Linked DNA regions of Homo sapiens. The protein of the gene in region 1 purifies or fractionates together with the protein of each later gene. This does not show direct contact. Each region holds a gene or a part of one and is shown on either strand. Other genes may lie near its edges.

Region 1 (3,823 bases):
CTCCTGTACTTTGTTGGGTAAAATTTCTCTTTAATCAGAGCTGTAGAACTCATCTATGTATCTTACTGCTATATCCCTATGATATTCACTACAGCATTTCATAAGGGTGTATAAAGATTCTCATAGATTTTTCAGAGAGCTCCTTTAATTCCATTACTGATTAAAGGTGTTAGGTGATGCATCTGGTTAGGACGTACACAGTGCTTTCTGTTAGTGGGATTATTAGAGAATGTTCTTTCAATGTGCATTTGTTTAAATATTAACCCAATAAACCTTGAAGGCAATAAAATGTGGCTGCCTAATAACCTGTGCAAGTTTTAAAACTCAGAATTTCAAACTGCAAATATTTTAGAAGATATTTATTTTTTCACTTAGTTTCAATCTGGATGCCCAGATGAAGAGAATGGAAACTCTAATTGTTACTATTTTGAAAAGATCCAGCCTACCCTTGTCAATTACTGAATAGACCTTTCACAGGACTGGAAAAGTGTTTTGGGCTCCACCTGCTGGACCCACGGAGCTTTTGTGTTCAGTATGTGACTGTACTTTAGAAAACAAATTAAATCAGTGGAATTGGGAACAAATTGTCCTTCTCAACAGGGCTGGTAGACAAAGACATGTAAAAATGAATCACAATGATTTTAGCAGAGCGGCTTTTGGTTCATTTCAAACCAGGAATGAAGTCAGCTGCACACAAAGCACCTTGGTAGGAGCCTGATGGCTGGTCCACACCTATGATGCTATCAGACAGAAGTCATTCCATTGATGGAGGAAGGCTTGCTCAGAATCCGTGGGAACATCTTAGTGATTTATTTTGCGCATTTTATGAACTAAAGTTAGAATGTTGGCTAATATCCAAAGTAGGAGGAAACAATTAACAATCTGGTGATTTATGCTATCTACCTTCAAGCTGGCCTGGTCACTGGTCAGTGAAACAGTATTTCCTAAGTATGTCTGACTTCCACAATACTTGAATTTCATGTCAGGGGCCCTTCATATAACATCACTAATGATCAGCGTGATGATCATTTACATATCCACTTTGGAATTGGAGCCTAAAAATAAATAACTTACGATTCTACTCATAATTATTTCCTGCTAATATTTATGAGCAGAGAAGAATTATATAAGCAACATGCATATGTTATTTATGCTATTTTATGTTATCTATATGCAGGGCATAATTAAGAATACTCTTCAAATTCTAAAGAAATATTTTTTCATACAGTAAAATCTTGATCCACCAGAATTCTCAGGGGATAGAGAATCCTAGTTACTTGAGATTTCAGGATAATTTAGCATTAAAGAATTTTTAAAATAAACTATTTCCCTCCATTTTTCTTTCTCTATATCTCTTGCCGTATTTCTCTCCTTTTGTCTTTTTTTTCTTTTCTGTGCTGTCAAAAATAGTATAGTGACCTTAAAAATGAAAATTTTGGTGTCTTAGATATTGTTCTTCTGATTTATGATTATGTTATCTTTGTAGAGCAGGAGAGAAGGAGTGGGAAACAGGAGTGTTCAGATTCCCCCCACCCCACCCCACCCCACCCCCTTAGAGAGAGGAGGAACAAGTTTGTCGTCATTTTCTCTGATTCTTTTTGTACAGCTATGACCTGGTAGCTTGATATAGGTGAAATTATCCCTCCACACACACAAAAAAAAACCTATAGCATTGTCAGAATTGTCATACAAGTAGGTGATTGAAGATATAGAGAGAGGTAGATAGATTATAGGTGATTGACAGATTAAATAGATAGATTATAGGTAGGTAAGCAGGTATATAGATAGGTAGGTAACTAGATTAGATAGATGATTAATTAATTGATAGATTTTAGATAGATCAGTAGATGATAGATGATGGATGGCTGGATGGATAGATGATAGATGGATGAATGAATGGCTGGCTGGATGGACGGATAGATAGATGGTAGGTAGGTAGATAGATGATAGATAATATTAGGTTGGTGCAAAAGTAATTGCAGTTTTTACCATTAAAAATAATGATAGATTAACAGATAATAGATGGATGGATGGATGGATGGATGGATGGATAGATGGATGGGTGGATGGATAGATAGATGGATAATAGATAATAGAGGGATAGATTGATAGATGATAGATAATAGATGATGGATGAATGAACAGGTGGATAGATGATTGGATAGATTGATTGATGGTAGATGATAGATGAAGGAATGGATGCATGGATAAATAGATAGATGATAGATATATGGATGGATGGATAGACAGACAGACAGATCGATAGACAGCTGCATAATATGCTACCCAGGGACAATGGAGGCCTTGTTGCTTTTCCTTTGTTATTTTAGCTGAACTGCAGATTTCGTATTATTTTCTCAATATAGATTTTCACCCTAGAAAAGGCGGTAAAACAAAACTCAAATGACTGTGTCAGAGATTGTGGTTACCTGGGCTCCGCATAATCAATCTTTTCTTGTCAGTGGTACATGAGCCACCATTGAAAGCGAGGCAGCCTCCGCTCCTCCCGCGGTGGCCGGGGCCGCAGGGGCGCCTGGGCTCAGGCTTGCCTCTGCAGCGCGGCTCTTCTTCCCTGTCTTAGGTATGCAGGGAGTTCCAGCGAGGAAACTGTGCCCGGGGAGAGACCGACTGCCGCTTTGCACACCCCGCAGACAGCACCATGATCGACACAAGTGACAACACCGTAACCGTTTGTATGGATTACATAAAGGGGCGTTGCATGAGGGAGAAATGCAAATATTTTCACCCTCCTGCACACTTGCAGGCCAAAATCAAAGCTGCGCAGCACCAAGCCAACCAAGCTGCGGTGGCCGCCCAGGCAGCCGCGGCCGCGGCCACAGTCATGGTAAGTGCGGCCGCCCGCCGCCCCTGCACCCCGGCGCCTCTGCGGAGGCCGCTCCGGGCTGGGACTTGGATGTTCTTCCAAACACTCGGGAAACATGGAAGGCTGCTATTCCTGCTGCTCCGCTGCCTAAGTTTTGCTGTTGTTTTCCCCCTTTTTGTTTTGTTTTGTTTTCCCCTCCTGCCCCCCTTCAGCACAATAAGTAAATCCCTCAGGTGCAGGGAAAGTCCTGGGGTCCCTGAGCTCCGTTCCCCCTCCTAGGGTGGCGGAGATTGAGTGTGCTCACTTAGGGTCTTTTTAAGAGAGGCTCAGGGGCCTTGTAATGAACATGAAGGTGGGCACCGCTTCGGAGAGGGGAAAGAAAGGTGCATTTCTGCACCTGAGCACGAGGAGGCACCCAGCTCCTTGGAGCAGCCACGGAGGACATCTGTGGCCTAAGAGAAGCCCAGAGAGTGATTTGGCTTTTCGCTACTCCCATTTTCTCCTCTTCTTTCACTTATTACAAGGGCAATGCTGGTCAGATTCCCCATCTCAATGAGGTTTTATGCAGAATAGCAATGCATGAAACAGATGAAAGTGGAGCCATCCTGGCTGGTGCAGAAAGAAAAAAAGACCTGTGACCTAGGCTTGCTTCCCTGAGTCACCCTACTGTCATTAGAGACCAGCAGTACATCATCATTATCATCGCCTGGGAGCCTGCTCAGAATCTCGGAGAGCCTAACTGTCCCTTAGAGACCAGATGCACCATTATTAGGATCACCTAGAAGCCTGTGGAGCCTCCAGAATCCTCAGCCTCACCCCAGACCTCAGGGAATCAGAATTTAAGTTGTAAAACATCTCCCAGGTGTTTTGTATGCACATTAACATTTGAGAAGCACCTGCCTAGACATTGCTTATCAAACTTGGCTACATTTTGGAACAACCTGAAGGGTCTGACCTGACATCTGTCCCTTTCCCTGAAGTTTCTTATTTTCTTATTTA
Region 2 (3,823 bases), on another chromosome or scaffold:
TCAAGTGATTCTCCCACCTCAGTCTCCTGAATAGTTGGGACTACAGGCACGTGCCACCATGCCCAGCTAATTTTTGTACTTTTTGGTAGAGATAGCGTTTCACCATGTTGGCCGGGCTGGTCTTATATGCCTGACCTCAAGTGATCCCTCTGCCTCAGCCTCCTAAAGTGCTGGGATTACAGGCGTGAGCCACTGCGCCTGGCCAGGCTTATATAGTTTCATAGTTGAATTCTATCAAATTTTTGTCTTTATTGAAGTGTAGTTGACAAATAAAAATTTTATATTTACAGTGTACAATGTGGTGTTTTAATATATTTACATTGTGAATTGATTGCAATGATTAAGCTAATTAGCATACCATTACTTTACATGGCTATTATTTTTTGGGTGTGGTAAGGACAGCAATTTTCAGGTATACAGTATGTTATTTTTTTAAATTTTATTTTATTTTTTATTTATTTTATTTTATTTTTATTTTTATTTTATTTTATTTATTTCTTTTTTTTTGAGATGGAGTCTCACTCTATCACCCAGGCTGGAGTGCAGTGGTGAGGTCTCGGCTCACTGCAAGCTCTGCTCCCGGGTTCATGCCATTCTTCTGCCTCAGCCTCCCGACAGGCGCCCACCATGATGCCCAGCTAATTTTTTGTATTTTGTTTAGTAGAGATGGGGTTTCACCTTGTTAGCCAGGATGGTCTCGATCTCCTGACCTCGTGATCCGCCCACCTCAGCCTCCCAGAGTGCTGGGATTATAGGTGTGAGCCACTGTGCCTGGCCATTATGTTATTATTAACTACAGTCACCTTGCCGTACAGTGGATTTCCAGAAATTCATCCTGTTTAATTGAAACTTTGTTCCCTTCGACCTACATATCCCTATTCTCCTTAATTTTAACAAATCTATAAGGAACAGGCTGTTCCTTATATTTGGAGTAGGTGTAGGATCTATTTTCCATGATCTCCAATTCTTGAACCACTATCATACTAATTAAAGTAGTTTATCTTTCATTTTTAAAGTTTATTTACTCTTTTAGAGACATGGTCTCGCTGTGTCACCCAGGCTGGAGTGCAGAGACAGGGTTTTGCCATGTTGCCCAGGCTGGTCATAGCTCACTGCAACCTCGATCTCCTGGGCTCAAGCAATCCTCGCACTTCAGCCTCTCGAGTAGCTGGGACTGCAGGTGTACACCACCGCACCCAGCTACTTTTTTTTGTTTTGTTTTTTTGAGATGGAATCTTGCTCTATCGCCCAGGCTGGAGTGCAGTGGTGTGATCTCAGCTCACTGCAATCTCCACCTCCCTGGTTCAAGCGATTCTCCTGCCTCAGCCTCCCAAGTAGCTGGGATTGCAGGCGCTTGCCACCATACCCAGCTAGTTTTTTGTATTTTGAGTAGAGATGGGGTTTGTCATTTTGGCCAGGCTGGCCTTGAACTCTTGACCTCAAGTGATCCGCCCACCTTGGCCTCCCAAAGTGCTGGGATAACAGGCGTGAGCCATAGCGCCTGGCCCCCAGATACTTTTTTTTGTTTTTGTTTGTTTGTTTTGTAGACAGAGTCTTGCTCTGTCGCCCAGACTGGAGTGCAGTGGCGTGATCTTAGCTCATTGCCACCTCTGCCTCCCAGGTTCAAGCAATTCTCGTGCCTCAGCCTCCCTAGTAGCTGGGACTGCAAGCAAGTGCCACCATGCCTAGTTAATTCGTTGTGTTTTTAGTAGAGACAGGGTTTCACCATGTTGCTCAGGCTGATCTCAAACTCCTGAGCTCAGGCAATCCGCCTGCCTTGGCCTCCCACAGTGTTAGGATTACAGGCATGAGCCACTGTGCCCAGTCCACTTTTTAAATTTTTCTGTAGAGACAGAGTCTTGCTGTGTTGCCTAGGCTGGTCTTGAACTCCTTGGCTCAAGCAATTTGCCATCCTTGGTCTCCCAAAGTGCTAGGAGTACAGCCATGAGCCACTGTGCCTGTCTAATTTTGTTTGTTTGTTTAATCAGTTCATGTCTCCTTTTCCAGATAAGCTTTAGAATCACTTAAATTCCTAAAACTATTTTAAAGGAATTCTTTGAGAAGGGTAGAAATTGCATTAAAGTTACGAATTTATTTTAGAAAATTGGCATCACAATTATAAATAGGATGCTATTTCATTTTAAACCAGGTCATCTGTGTCTTGTAGGATTTCCCATATTTTAGATTTGACTGATTACATTCCTGTAGTACTATTGAACATGTTCCTGTATCCCTCAAATTTTGATCAGATTTAGGATTTATTTCACTTTATTTAATTAATTAATTAATTAATTAATTATTATTATTTTTTGAGATGGAGACTCACTCTGTCGTCCAGCCTGGAGTGCAGTGGCGTGATCTCGGCTCACTGCAACCTCTGCCACCCAGGTTAAGCAATTCTGCCTCAGCCTCCCAAGCAGCTGGGATTACAGGTGCCACCATGACTGGCTAATTTTTGTATTTTTGGTAGAGACGGGGTTTCACCATATTGGCCAGGCTGGTCTTGAACTCCTGACCTTTTGATCCACCCACCTTGGCCTCCCAAAGTGCTAGGATTACAGGTGTGAGCCACCACACCGGGCCTTATTTATTTTTGAAATGGAGTCTCGCTCTGTCGCCCAGGCTGGAGTGCAGTGGCGCAATCTCAGCTCACTGCAACCTCCGCCTCTATTTTATTTTATTTTTAAGACGGAGTCTCGCTGTGTTGCCCAGGCTGGAGTGCAATGGCACAATCTTGGCTCACTGCAACCTCCACCTCCCCGGTTCATGTAATTCTTCTGCCTCAGCCTCCCCAGTAGCTGGAATTACAGGCGTGTGCCATCATGCCTGGCTAACTTTTGTATTTTTAATAGAGTCAGGGTTTCACCGTGTTGGCCAGGCTGTTATGAACTCCTGACCTCAGGTGATCCTTCTGCCTTGGCCTCCCAAAGTGCTGGGATTACAGGTGTGAGGCACCGCGCCCAGCCAGGATTTATTTTATAGCAAGAGTTTTTTTACGTGTGCAGCATTGTTAGGGTGACTCAGCAGCCCATTTGCCTGGGACTGAGGGGTTGCCGGGGATGTCAGACTTTCATAGTAAAACCTGGACAGTTCTATTTCTGTTGCATCACATCAGGAGGCATATAATGTCATCTTTGTGTGAGCGGCCAAGACTGATGCGTGGTTTCAGGGTCAACAGCCTGATCCCATCATTATAAAGTTCCCTATCAATGTGGTCTTGGTGTGTCTGGGATAGACCCAGTTTATATTAGTTGTCCCAGTGTGATTATTAATAGTGCTCCCTTGCAGCCTAAAAATGCCCTCGTCTGGATCATAAATTAGATCTTTGTGCCACCCGTTGAAACTGGTTTCCCTGGAAGCAGAGCCTGAGATAGAGACCCAGGTATGTGTGATTTTTTTGAGGGCGGGCTTTTCAGGAAAACCCAGTGTGGGAGAGAGGGAAGCAGGGTCTAAGGAAGGAAAAGCTACAAGCACATAAGGTCTGGCCTTGACTTCATTCATGGGGAGCTGTGGAACAAAGATCACGTTGAGTCTAGCTTTGAGGCACTCTAGCATTTTTTTAGCTTTATCTAAGTCATTCATTGGCTACAGGCTTTGGGGACAGAGGGCAGTTCAGCTGAGAGTGTAAAGTAAGAGGGGGCAGCTGTGAGTCACAAGCAGCCAGTGCCCACAGCAGCGGGAGTATGGTTAGCACCACTACACTATCATCAGGCTTTCCCCCAAAGATTTTAACAGCCACTGGTGATCAGAAGATGTCATTTAGTCTTCAGTTTAGCTAGAGAAGCTATAGTCTTTTGGCTTAAAAGATAGAGTGAAAACTAAT

What was found.
Region 2: the proteins of MBNL2 (region 1) and ZC3HAV1L fractionate together in Homo sapiens (co-fractionation; one large-scale study listed by BioGRID). This does not show direct contact.

The regions. Positions count from the first base shown.
Region 1 is NC_000013.11:97,344,223-97,348,045, forward strand, and holds part of MBNL2 (muscleblind-like protein 2), read left to right. Parts: intron 1-2,581; coding exon 2,582-2,845; intron 2,846-3,823. UniProt on the Homo sapiens protein: Mediates pre-mRNA alternative splicing regulation. Acts either as activator or repressor of splicing on specific pre-mRNA targets. Inhibits cardiac troponin-T (TNNT2) pre-mRNA exon inclusion but induces insulin receptor (IR) pre-mRNA exon inclusion in muscle.
Region 2 is NC_000007.14:139,029,307-139,033,129, reverse strand, and holds part of ZC3HAV1L (zinc finger CCCH-type antiviral protein 1-like), read left to right. Parts: intron 1-3,823.